Linked DNA regions of Homo sapiens: regions 1 and 3 are each reported to be linked to region 2. The links are microRNA targets in miRTarBase. Many come from high-throughput screens and were not tested one by one. Region 2 holds a microRNA gene; each other region holds the end of a gene's coding sequence.
The links. Region 2 holds the annotated microRNA hsa-miR-191-3p (GCUGCGCUUGGAUUUCGUCCCC, at 2,905-2,926, shown strand). A microRNA usually pairs through its seed, bases 2 to 8, with sites in the 3' UTR of a target mRNA and lowers its output. Matches are read on the target gene's strand: a 7mer-m8 pairs with bases 2 to 8, a 7mer-A1 pairs with bases 2 to 7 and ends in A, and an 8mer does both.

Region 1 (4,000 bases), not on the chromosome of region 2:
CATCATTGTCATATACACATCTTCTGGATTTTTTAGCTTGCAAAAAAAATGAGCACCAAACCTGATATGATTCAAAAGTGTTTGTGGCTTGAGATCCTTATGGGTATATTCATTGCTGGCACCCTATCCCTGGACTGTAACTTACTGAACGTTCACCTGAGAAGAGTCACCTGGCAAAATCTGAGACATCTGAGTAGTATGAGCAATTCATTTCCTGTAGAATGTCTACGAGAAAACATAGCTTTTGAGTTGCCCCAAGAGTTTCTGCAATACACCCAACCTATGAAGAGGGACATCAAGAAGGCCTTCTATGAAATGTCCCTACAGGCCTTCAACATCTTCAGCCAACACACCTTCAAATATTGGAAAGAGAGACACCTCAAACAAATCCAAATAGGACTTGATCAGCAAGCAGAGTACCTGAACCAATGCTTGGAGGAAGACAAGAATGAAAATGAAGACATGAAAGAAATGAAAGAGAATGAGATGAAACCCTCAGAAGCCAGGGTCCCCCAGCTGAGCAGCCTGGAACTGAGGAGATATTTCCACAGGATAGACAATTTCCTGAAAGAAAAGAAATACAGTGACTGTGCCTGGGAGATTGTCCGAGTGGAAATCAGAAGATGTTTGTATTACTTTTACAAATTTACAGCTCTATTCAGGAGGAAATAAGGTATATTTTTGGAATTAAAATTCCTTTTCCCTCCGAAATCTCTTTCTCCTTCTCCTCCTCCAACTTCTTTTTAAGGATTGTTGTGCTGTCCTGTAAGCCTGTCCTCAGTTGGACTGGTAGCCTCGGAACATCAGGGACACTCACCTCTCTAAGGAGAGGTAATGCCAACCATCCTCAGGGTGACCAAGAGTCTCCTTAGAAAGTCTTTAAGACATTTTTAAAGGAATAAGATTCCCTCTCCGTCTTCTTCTATTCTCTCTTGCTCTTTTCTGTGGCCATTTTGAAAGAGCTTTGCTATATATACCACCTGTGGACTTCACCAAGACAATGGCTAGAGGATAGGGAGCAGAGAATGTTGCAAAATGGTAACATTTCAATGACTTAACTGTTTTGCTGCCAAGGTTGCTTATCCTATGAAAATTCAGCACATTAAAAGAGCTTATACATGCTCCCTAGAGTCAATACTCTTGCATTTTCCCCCTCCTGCTCGGGGGGAAAAAGGTTGACATTTCTGGCCCATTTCCTTCTCAGCTTGGTTTGTTTGAATTGATGCTTGTGGAATAGTATTTCATTACTTTAAGAGTGAAGATCCATAGTGAAATTGGATGGATGGTTGAATTAGACGACCATTAAGCTTTCATTTAACCTTTGAGAGTCTGTGATTCTAATGTAGCACACTCTTCATTCCTGATGTATATTGTTTGATTCCTACATCTAAAGGCATGGAAAATGCTGTGGAAAAGTATGGTACAGAATCTGTCTTTTACTGTTTTTCATGTGCCTGAAATAAAATGTCCAGAGTCATAATATGGAACAATTTTACATTAGATTTTCCTAGTTAGAAGACTACATTCTGTGAGTTAATTTAACTAGCTATTCCAATAATACATAATACTTTAATATCTTTTATCTTTTTAAAAGTTACTTTGCAGCCAGACTACCTAGATTATTTACTTTTCTAGCACGGCCCTTCATCTATATTAATTCACCACCTAGCTGACATGGATTTTCTCTTCCTCTCGCACCTCTATCTACCCCATTTCAGAATCATCTACCTTCAAGCAAGAATTAACAGAGATTGTGGCTACGCAAATGCACCAAAAAAGGGTGAAATATATCTGAAATGTACCTGGTTCTGCCCTTGGAAGCCATTTCCTGCTCATGCCACTAACAGCATGCTGCCAAACTGTTCAGATTCAAGATTATTCCAAGCGCAGGGCCCAAATGTTATAGCCAAAGAAAGTCTTATGATAAAAGTGAGGCAAATTTCAGCCAAGAAGTTAGAAGAGATGTTTAAAAGAACAAGAACAAATTGTGGATCATGGTATATGCAGGCTATCAGCAGAAGGATCAGACAATAAAATGAGTTAGTGCAAACCATTTAGTAAAAATAACTATCAGCAGAGTTGTTCCAGATTAAAAATAGTACTACAAGCTTGTAAAGGAGTTAGGACATGCAAGCTACTGAGCATAAAATATATACTTGCTATTTTTCATGACTTTCTCTAATAAAGTCTTTGCCTGTTCTCTCTAATAACTTTACTGGAATGAGGTCAATTACTTTAGTCATTTATGGTTGCAGTCCTGCCAAGTGTTTGCTATCCTGGAGGAAAGAGAATGGCTGAGAAAGCCGAGCTGAGCTTTCAGTTAATATACATTTTCTGAATGTGTGGCAGGGGTAGAAGTCAGAACAGTATGCTTTTTTAAAGATCACATCTAATCAAAAGAAAAAGGATAACATCTCCACTGGAAAAAAGGCAAGGGCACAAACTGACATCATCACAAAGGAAGAAATACTACAGACAATGTGAAAAATGTTTAATCTAACTTGATTTTTAAATGCAAAATAAGATGACAAGATACTCCCATCAGTATGACAGAAAAGAAAAAGAATGACAATATAAAATGTGAGTGGAGTGTAAGGTATAGGAGCCTTTGTGCATTACTGGGAGGAAAGTAAACTGGGACATGTTTTCTACAGGGAAATATGGCAATCTTCAATATCCTAAAGAACGCATCAGCCCCTGTGACCTAGGTATCACGTCTTCCGAAATTTATTCCAAGGAAATAGGTTTATGATATCTCCCCCTTTTACATTCATTTTCACCATTCGATATTTTCTATTTTTTCCTATAGTGATTTTTTTGGGAAGATTTTTAATTCTAAAAGAAACTGTACAAGCTTAACTTCCACTATAATTACCCTGTTTTCCTTAGCGGGGTAGGCCAAGACAAGAAATGCTCTTTTATTTTGTTAATGATGCCTTTGGGTACTTCTTGAGTAACTTTGGTCTTTTTTGTTGCTTCTGGGTTGCTGCTGCTAAATTTCAAAGGAATCCTTCCTTGGGGATCATTTTCATAATGAAATGTTTGTAAAGTGCCTTGCAGTACTTCAAAGATGTTGCTTTTTTTTCTTTTCCTGGTTCCACCGTTGGGAAGGTAAAGAGATATAATACCCAGAAATCACTAGAGAAAGTGCTCTATGTGTCGCATTCCTGGCTTAGCAGTCTCACTTCTTTTATGTTAAATGGAAACTCAAAAGTTCTGTTGAGTTCGCAAAGGGAAAACTCTCAGAGCTGTGCAGAGCCAAGCTTCTGGTATCCACTGACAATGTCTGAGTGGGTACATAGATCATAATGTTCCTACAGAAGCCTCTTTCTTCCCCTGGGTTGAGGAGGAATCAAAAGTGTAATTGAGCTTCCTTGGAAGAGGGACTCATTGGGGATCCCACAGGAAAAGCTGGCAACAGCAAGTCAACTGCAAGGCTATGGGGTAGCATAGGTTCTAACAGGTGCACAGTCTCAGTCAGCCTCCCCTCAGAGGCAAGACAACTCGCTGGGCACCATCTGGGGACCCTGACTTCTCAGAGTAGCTACTTTGCTTTTGCCCCAGTTCTTTAATCAATAATCCACACTAAGAATGAACACAATGTGTAAGCATCTGACTTGTGCAGGGAAACAGGGCCGCCTGCAACCCAACAAGCGCACCCACAGGGGAACTCGGGACCATCCTAAGCCACTTGTTCTCTGGGACGTGGAAGCAGGAACTGTGCTCTAGCCGTATCTGTGTTGCGTCGTCTGAGTCCTCTTTTTCTACAATGAAGAAAGGGGACTTGGGATTTAAACTTGGAGCGGTACTCAAAGCCAGAACTCCACGTTCATTCCGGAGTGAACCACCACACTACTATTTCCAGGCAACGTCATAAGGCTTCCTCGTTATTTGCATCTTCGTTCTCTTTTTGGCGACTAGCCTGCCCTCCCGCCCTTGGAAACTTGTGGACCCCAGAATCTCAGCTTTCCGCCTACCAAAGGTGCCCCGATCCCCTCCC
Region 2 (4,156 bases):
ACTGCACTGCAGCCCGGGCGACAGCGAGACTCCATCTCAAAAAAAGAAAAACAATCAGCGATTTTGTGAGAAAAGCCGTTGAGGTCCTCTCAAATCTGCATGTGAGCAAGTAGGTCTACAACAGGCAAACATACTGCTTCCCGACTTCTGAAAAGTCAAGGAATCCTAAGTAATCTAGATGAAAAAGTGACTCCTTGGTTTCTTCACATTCCCCTCCAAGAGCCCAGTGAGCCATCAGCTCCTGGCCAGCAACACACCTGATACAAAATGGGAGAAGTGTATAAATTATTATGTTGATAAGCAAGATAAGTGCCAAAGGGTAGATAAGAGTGAAAGCATTGGGAAGCCTGGCAGAGTGCAGTCAGCAGGTCAGTTCCTGGCGGTTCATTGAGCAGCTTGGCCCAAAGATGTAAGTGAAGTCCCTCCTGGTGGAGGGATGAGAGCAGCTCCAGTTACTCGGCCTTCATGACACAGGAAGTTGAAGGTGGCACAGGCATTGGGCTGCAAAGAAAAGGCCAGCATCAGCCTGTCTAGCGCCAGGCCTGTGCTCCCCGCAGCATGCCCCAGTCCCGGGACTCACCGTGTCCTGCACTTCCACAGCAATGCCCCGCTGCCTCATGGCTTGAAGCACCTGGGACTGCAGCCTCTCGGTCCGGTCTCCAGTCCCCACCACCACGATCTCTAGGGAAGGGTGGGTGTGGCTAGTCTACAGTTCTGTTGAGAGGCTGCAGTGGGGGTCGCCTTCTGGGGCCCAGAACACCTCTGTTCTCCCTCCCCTTCCCCAGTACCTATCCGGGGCTCCAGCAACCAGAAGAGGGAAAAGCTGTCTTCGGTGATGTCCTGGTGGGATCCCACCTGTGCAGGGAGGAGGCACATTTAATACGACAAATCCACGCAGCCTCTCCCCATCTCCATCCACTGCAGGAGGAGACAGAGGAAAGCCAAGTTTGCAGGGACCAAGCAGGGTGAGGGCCTGTGACTCTGGGCCTCAGTTTCCACACTGCGGGCCAGGACTCACGTTCCACTGCACCACCGAGTGCGGGAGCAGAGCGCAGGGGCCGAGCACGCGGTTTCCGTTTATCATGAAGCCGCGGCTGTTGTAGCTGTCGATGTACATTGCCTGAGCGGCCTCGCGTTGCAGCAGAGAGATGCGCGTCCGCTGATACAGCTCGTCATCCGCCGGCGAGAGCCGATGCCCTCGCCGCGGGGCCCTGCGGAGGGAAAGGGTCAGGGGCGCGGGGCCGGGCCGGGCAGCCCGAGAGGCCGGAAGGTGCTGGGCTGGCAGTCGCCGGCCCTAGGGGGCTGGATGGTCGAGGGCGCGGGGTCCAAGCTCACCAGGGAAGCTCAACGGGCGGACAGCGCAGCGAGGGTCGCGCTCGGTACAAGCTACGTAGCGCGAGAGCGGTGGCCATGGCTGACCAACGCGCGGCGAAGTCGTCACCGGCGCCGTTAGTCCCCGGGTTGGGAGGGCCCTGCGGAGCCTGACCCAGCGTGGCTGCAGCGCCCCCTGCGTCCCGGAGGGCACCGCACAGCTCGACCGGCCCAGCAGGCGAGTGTCCTCAGTCTTAGGAGGCCGAGTTCCCCGACCTCCGGCGCAGCTCCAGTGTCAGCACCTGCCGCCCTCCCCGCCCCGGGCCCTTGCCCATAGTCCCGGGGGAGTGGAACACCTGGCAGCGTGGCCACCCTCAGGGCGTTGCCTGGGCCGCAGCCGCGGCCTGGCCCCCGGGCTCTCAGCTATTAAGCCGCGCTCCCGGGGCGGGGCGACCGCCCACCTGGTCGCGTCCCGAACACCTGGCCAGGCGGTGGGTGCCAGACTTCTAGCCCCTAATTCCAGCCTTTGGGGCTTCGGGCACCGTGGGCGGGGCAGCCGGCTCAAGTTTCTCCGGCTAGACGCGGAAGCACGCCCCGCCCTAACCGTCACCCGCGCGACCGTTGGCCTCTCCGCAGCGCGCGGAGAGGGGCGTGGCCGAGCGTGGATTGGCTTCTCGGGTTCTCTAGGGGGCGTGGCCAGGTGGTTTCTCCTTAAAATGGCTCCAAGTCTGCAGGCAGCCAGAGCAAGCGGAAGGGCAAGCTGTGATAGTGTTTGGGTGGCTGTTCGGCTGGCCCAGACCAGGCCGAACCGGACCAGACTTGAAGTAGAAGCGCGTGGAGCATCACCTTGTCCTCGTTCACTCTGCTCGCGTCCTGGGAGTCCCCCGTCCCCCGTCTTGATCCAAGTCAAGGGCCTACTGGCGCGAGAGTCGCTGGCCCCCGCGCGGGGTTTGGGCATCTCGGCACGCCGGCTCTGTCGTGGCCTCAGGGGAACATTGTCGCTTTCGCTACCCGCGGGGCCGGGCGAGCGGGAAGCTCGGCACAGTGGGAGCCTGGTGGTGGGTCTCCTGGGGCCGGTCGCAATGGGTTTCCGGGGGTCCCGCGGCTGCTCTGTGGACCCCTTCGGCCCCTGGTGCTCCGGGCGCTGGCAGCGTCACCGGACAAAGGCCACCGAGCGCGGGGGTGTCCCCGAGGTGGACGCGCGGGTTTACTTCCTCTCCGGCCCCACGGGCGCGCTTCCCTCCTGACGGATTCCGAAGCCCGCCCCACCACCGTCACCGCACCAGTGGCCCAGGCTTCGTGGGACCAACAGGGCTAATCCTGCCCCACGGATCTAATCCGGATCGGGACCCGGTCCCAGGGGAGGCCCCCACCTCCCCTTCTATTGTTCTGTGGCCCAGGTGAGCGTCTTGTTCCCTCTAGACTCCGTTTCACAACCTACTCCCGGGTCTTCCTCCTGGGACTGGGGATGGGCGGGTTCTGATGTGGCCCCAGGGCGAGTGACCTGGGGGCAGGAGCTCCCCCGCCCCCCGCCAACGGCTGGACAGCGGGCAACGGAATCCCAAAAGCAGCTGTTGTCTCCAGAGCATTCCAGCTGCGCTTGGATTTCGTCCCCTGCTCTCCTGCCTGAGCAGCGCCCTGGCCCAGATGGGGTGCCCCTGACCCCCAGACATACTTTACTGAGCTGCTTGGGTCTCAGTTCCTCTCAGTTGCGCCCTCAGGCTGGAGGTGATGGGTGTAGACGTGGGAGAGCCGAGGCTGGTGGCCATCTCTGGAACCCTGGGGAGGATTGGCGAGGGAGGGTGGACCCAGGACCTCTGGGTAGGGCTGCAATGGTAGTGACTCCCCCAGGGCTGCCTCAGCCCGCATCTCGCTAAAGATAGCCCTCTTACTTCCTGGGGAAAAACCACCCCAACCGTCTTCGTGGATGAGAGTATCTGAAGTCCTCAGTTTGACTGAGGGTTCCCAACCCTGCTAAGCAGTTGTCTCCAGGTCATGCACCTTCAGAATGGAAAGCGCTTTGGAATGACACGATCACTCCCGTTGAGTGGGCACCCGAGAAGCCATCGGGAATGTCGTGTCCGCCCAGTGCTCTTTCGGCGCCTCCCAGCAGGGCCTCAGCCCTGGCCCAGAAAGGGGCCTTGCCAAGCTTTTCCTGCCCCTGGGTTTCCCTGCTCTCCGGATTTCCCAACTCTCTCTACTGAGTTAGCTTCTCTATTAAAAGGAATGGGGGTGGGGTGGGGGGTGAGTAAGTTACAGTGAAATGAAGACATTTGGGAACCTTTGTGGGAGAAAGAAAAAGACCTTTCCTATTGGTAGAGGAGCAAGATACTCCAACTGAGGCCTATTTTCTATTATGGTCGCATTATTTGGTTGGCCCGTAAATGGCTGTTGCCTAAAACAGGAAGCTTTAAGGATCGTTGTTAAAGCACACCAGGTTAAAGGAGTCACATTAAAAGCTGGTCATTCTGAGCCGGGCGCGGTGGCTCACGCCTGTAATCCCAGCACTTTGGGAGGCCGAGGCAGGCGGATCACCTGAGGTCGGGAGTTCGAGGCTTGACAAACATGGAGAAACCCCGTCTCTATTAAAAATACAAAAGTAGCCGGGCGTGGTGGCGCGTGCCTGTAATCCCAGCTACTTGGGAGACTGAGGCAGGATAATCACTTGAACCCGGGAGGGGGAGGTTGCGGTGAGCCAAGATCACACCACTGTACTCCAGCCTGGGCAACAGGAGCGAAACTCCGTCTCAAAAAAAAAAAAAAAAAGTCTGGTAATTCTGGAAGCCATCATGATGGTTGTGATTTCTCAGGTATCAAGAGAAGAAAACCGCCAACTGTATCAGAG
Region 3 (4,156 bases), not on the chromosome of region 2:
GGGGCCGGCTGTCCCTTGAGCCTGACTGCTCTTCCTCTTCAAAGCAGAAGCAGGACAGCAAGGAGGCCAACGCCAACGGTTCCAGCCCAGGTAAAGCCCCCATTCCTCTCGCCTCCCTTCCCTTTGCCATCCTCCTCCTCCTCCATCCTCACCTCTCTTGCCAGCCCCTGGCTGATGGCCCCTCTTTCCCTGTGACAGAGCCTGTGAAAGCTGTGGAGGCTCGGTCCCCAGGGCTGCAGAAGGAGGCTGTGCAGAAAGAGGAGCCCATCCCACAGGAGCCTCAGTGGAGGTACCAGCTTCCAATCCCAGGGTCCCTGAGCAGGGAGGCAGACTGCAGCTGGAGCTGCGGGGTGGCCTGGGCTTTCCTGGGAGGTGAGGTGCTGAGCCTTGGCCTCTGCATCCACAGTCTCCCAAGCAAGGAGTTGCCAGCGTCCCTGGTGAATGGCCTGCAGCCTCTCCCAGCACACCAGGAGAATGGCTTCTCCACCAACGGACCCTCTGGGGACAAGAGTCTGAGCCGAACACCAGAGACACTCCTGCCCTTTGCAGAGGCAGAAGCCTTCCTCAAGAAAGCTGTGGTGCAGTCCCCGCAGGTCACAGGTAGATCTCCTGATTCCTGGACCCAGCTCCATTCCTCCCAGCAGCCTTCCCTGTACTCCTCAGCCCTGCCTTCTCTTCTGGCTCTGCCAGGCACCCTCTCCTGCTCCACCCTGAAGACCCCCAGCTATCTGGGCTTGAGTGCTGTTTGCCCTGACTGTTTCCCTTCCTGTTTTTCCCCAGAAGTCCTTTAAGAGGGTTTGCCTTGGATCCGGGCACAGTTGTGAGGGCTCCTCTGCATCACCTACCAGGATGTCTGGAGGAGAAAAAGACAGAACAAAGATGGAAGTGGCCTGGGCCCCTGGGGGTGGGTCCTCTCTGTTGTTTTTAATCTGCACCTTATAGACTGATGTCTCTTTGGCCGGAGCCAGATCTGCCCCTCAGTGCATTCGTGTGCTCGCACGCGCAGACATCCCTTCTCCCCCATACACACATATACACTCACAGCCTCTCTGGCCTCTTCCCTTGGGGAGGGGCCACCTGTAGTATTTGCCTTGATTTGGTGGGGTACAGTGGATGTGAATACTGTAAATAGCTTGTGCTCAGACTCCTCTGCGTGGAGAGGGTGGGTGCAGGAGGCAGACCCTCCCCCCAAAGCCCCCTGGGGAGATCTTCCTCTCTCTATTTAACTGTAACTGAGGGGGATCCCAGGTCTGGGGATGGGGGACACCTTGGGCCACAGGATACTGGTTGCTTCAGGGGTACCCATGCCCCCTGCCCTCGCCTGGAATCAGTGTTACTGCATCTGATTAAATGTCTCCAGAAATAAAGAATAATTCTGCCAATCCTGCCTGTTCTTGGAGCTGGTGGCGGAGGTGGGAGCAGATGGCCTCCTGAGTTCTAAGAACTGAAGAAGCCTCGGGCTGGTGGTATTAGTCCTGAACTCCTGCCCTATGGTCTTCCAGTTTAGTCATGAATTCATTCATTTATTTATTCAACAAATACTGTTGCATCTACTCTGTGTCAGGCAGTAGGCTATGCACTGGGGATGCAATAGTCAGAAAGGATGTAATCTCTGTCCTTGTGCAGTTTATAGTCTAGTGGGTGAGTGTCGTGGACACTGTGGGCTGCCCACTCAACATCTATTCCCATTGCCCCTTCCTCATTCCAAATAATCTCTATTCAGGTAGCCATCTTTCTTTTAGATGGCACCCTGTGCTTCAGTGGAGGTGGATCTTAGCCGCAGGGGTGAATCGTGATTGTGACTGGGATCAAAAACAATGGTCCCAAACCCCTCATGATTGACTGGTGTAGGCATGGACATGTGACACAGTTTCAGCCAGTAGACATGAAGGGAAGCCTCCTGGGGGCTTCAGGAAGGGTATCCTCATTTTTTTTTTTTTGAGACGGAGTCTGGCTCCATCGCCCAGGCTGGAGGGCAGTGGTGCAATCTCAGCTCACTGCAACGTCCACCTCCCAGGTTCAAGCGATTCCCCTACCTCAGCCTCCCGAGTAGCTGGAACTACAGGCGCCAGCCACCACGCCTGCCTAATTTTTGTATTTTTAGTAGAGATGGGGTTTCACCGTGTTAGCCAGGATGTTCTCTTATCTCCTGACCTTGTGATCCGCCTGCCTCGCCCTCCCAAAGTGCTGGGATTACAGGCGTGAGCCACCGGCATCCTCATTTTTGACAATGTGGTCGTCAGCCTCTGTAATGACCTCTCGATGATGTCCCCTACCTCCTAGTATTCACACCCTTGTGTAGTTCCTTCCTATGTTGTATCAGGGTTGGGTTGAGTGGCCAATAGAATACGGCAGAAGTGATGGTGTGTCACATCTGAGATTAGGTATAAAAAACACTGCACTCATGCCTGTAATGCCAACACTTTGGGAGGCCAAGGCCAGTAGATTGCTTCAGCCCAAGAGTTCTAAGACCAGCCTAGGCAACATGGTGAAACCCCATCTCTAACAAAAATTCAAAAATTAGCCAGGCGTGGTGGCACATGCCTGTAATCCCACCTACTCAGGAGGCTGAAGTGGGAGAATCATCTGAGCCTGGGAAGTCAAGGCTGCAGTGAGCCCTGATTGTGTCACTGCACTCCAGCCTGGGCAACAGAGTGAGACCCTATCTCAAAAAACAAAAACAGGACAGGCGTGGTGGCTCACGCCTGTAATCCCAGCACTTTGGGAGGCCAAGGTGGGCAGATCACGAGGTCAGGAGATCGAGACCATCCTGGCTAACACAGTGAAACCCCGTCTCTACTAAAAATACAAAAAATTCTCCGGGCGTGGTGGCGGGCACCTGTAGTCCCAGCTACTCGGGAGGCTGAGGCAGGAGAATGGCATGAACCTGAGAGGCGGAGGTTGCAGTGAGCCGAGATCGCGCCACTGCACTCCAGCCTGGGTGACAGAGGGAGACTCTGTCTCAAAAAAAAAAAAAAAAAGCAGCAGCATTTAGGCCGGGCATGCTGGCTCATGCCTGTAATCCCAGCACTTTGGGAGGCTGAAGCAGGCGGATCACGAGGTCAAGAGTTCAAGACCAACCTGGCCAACATGGTGAAACCTCATCTCTACTAAAAATACAAAAAATTAGCCGGGTGTGGTGGTGCGCGCTTGTAGTCCCAGCTACTCGATAGGCTGAGGCAGGAGAATCGCTTGAACCTGGGAGGCGGAGGTTGCAGTGAGCCGAGATCTTGTTACTGCACTCCAGCCCAGGTAACAGTGCGAGACTCCATCTCAAAAAAAAAAAAAAAAAAAGCAGCATTTAAACTGGACCTGAAGAAGGATAGGGAGGAGCCAGCCTTGTGAAAGGAAGGAGGAGGCAAGTTGCAGATGGAGGGGTCAGTATGCAGGAGGCTGGGAATTCCAGGGACAAAGGAGCAGGAGCTCCTCTTGCTGGAGCATCAAAGGGGAGAGGTGCTAGATGGGGTTGGAGAGGTGGGCAGGGCTAAGTCACAGCGCTCTAGGGACAGTAAGGGGCAGGAAGGGACTAGCACACTCATTCAGCTCTCTGCTTGGTGAGAGCTCCTATATGTATGCCCCTCCCGGCCTCCCCTCCTCAGCCATCACCCACCAGCTCCTATGTACAGTGAGGCAGAGGTGCCAACATTTCCCTGAAGGGCAGAACTCTGAATACTCTTATGGGGGAATTGTTTACTCATTCATTTAGTCAATCAGTAAATTGCCTGTGGAGCACCAGCTGAGCACCGGAGGGAAACGATGGTAAGCAAAAACCAGACGTAGAAGCTCCTGGCGCTTCCTGGCAAGGAAGATGGGTATAAACCAAATCACCATATCACCACAGGAACAAATGTTAAAAAAGAAAATGTGGTGAGTGCTGTGAAGTCAAACATAGGGAGCAGTTAAGAGCGTATACAGGGGGACCTAAACTAGCTTCAGGTCGGATAAGATATCCCTGAATGAATGGTGTGTAATCAGATCTGATGGGTGAGTAGGTGTTGACTGGGCAAAGTCAGGAAGGTAGAGAAAGAAGGAGAGGGAAAGGACTGGATTCCAGAACAAGGGAAACCACATGCACAGGCTGTGGATGGGAAGGAGGTATGTTCAAGTATCTAGAGGACTAAGCAGAGCTGAAGGAGTCTGTTTTTGCTCACCCCAG

Region 1: the mRNA of IFNK is a reported target of hsa-miR-191-3p. Seed matches in the 3' UTR shown: 7mer-m8 at 1,884-1,890.
Region 3: miRTarBase lists MAP7D1 as a target of hsa-miR-191-3p. Seed matches in the 3' UTR shown: 7mer-A1 at 1,001-1,007.

What each region holds. Positions count from the first base shown.
Region 1 is chr9:27,524,289-27,528,288 of GRCh38, forward strand. It overlaps IFNK (interferon kappa), which reads left to right and starts at 2. Exons shown (of 2, transcript NM_020124.3): 1 at 2-673; 2 at 1,719-2,210. The coding sequence starts at 49. The coding sequence ends at 672. The region is part of intron 1 of MOB3B (MOB kinase activator 3B); the gene reads right to left.
Region 2 is chr3:49,019,401-49,023,556 of GRCh38, reverse strand. It overlaps MIR191 (microRNA 191), which reads left to right and starts at 2,848; the gene lies at 2,848-2,939. It overlaps NDUFAF3 (NADH:ubiquinone oxidoreductase complex assembly factor 3), which reads right to left and starts at 1,436. Exons shown (of 5, transcript NM_199069.2): 1 at 1,336-1,436; 2 at 1,019-1,211; 3 at 789-855; 4 at 581-681; 5 at 62-501. The coding sequence starts at 1,412. The coding sequence ends at 385. MIR425 (microRNA 425) reads left to right here and starts at 3,323; the gene lies at 3,323-3,409. It also overlaps a transcript of DALRD3 not described here. RefSeq lists silencers at 1,046-1,095, 1,156-1,275, 1,316-1,415, 1,636-1,825, 1,862-2,064 and an enhancer at 1,580-2,349.
Region 3 is chr1:36,179,468-36,183,623 of GRCh38, forward strand. MAP7D1 (MAP7 domain containing 1) reads left to right here. Exons shown (of 17, transcript NM_001388490.1): 14 at 48-90; 15 at 199-289; 16 at 407-600; 17 at 781-1,382. The coding sequence ends at 791. Among named protein-coding and RNA genes, the nearest start is that of MAP7D1, 25 kb to the left of the region's middle.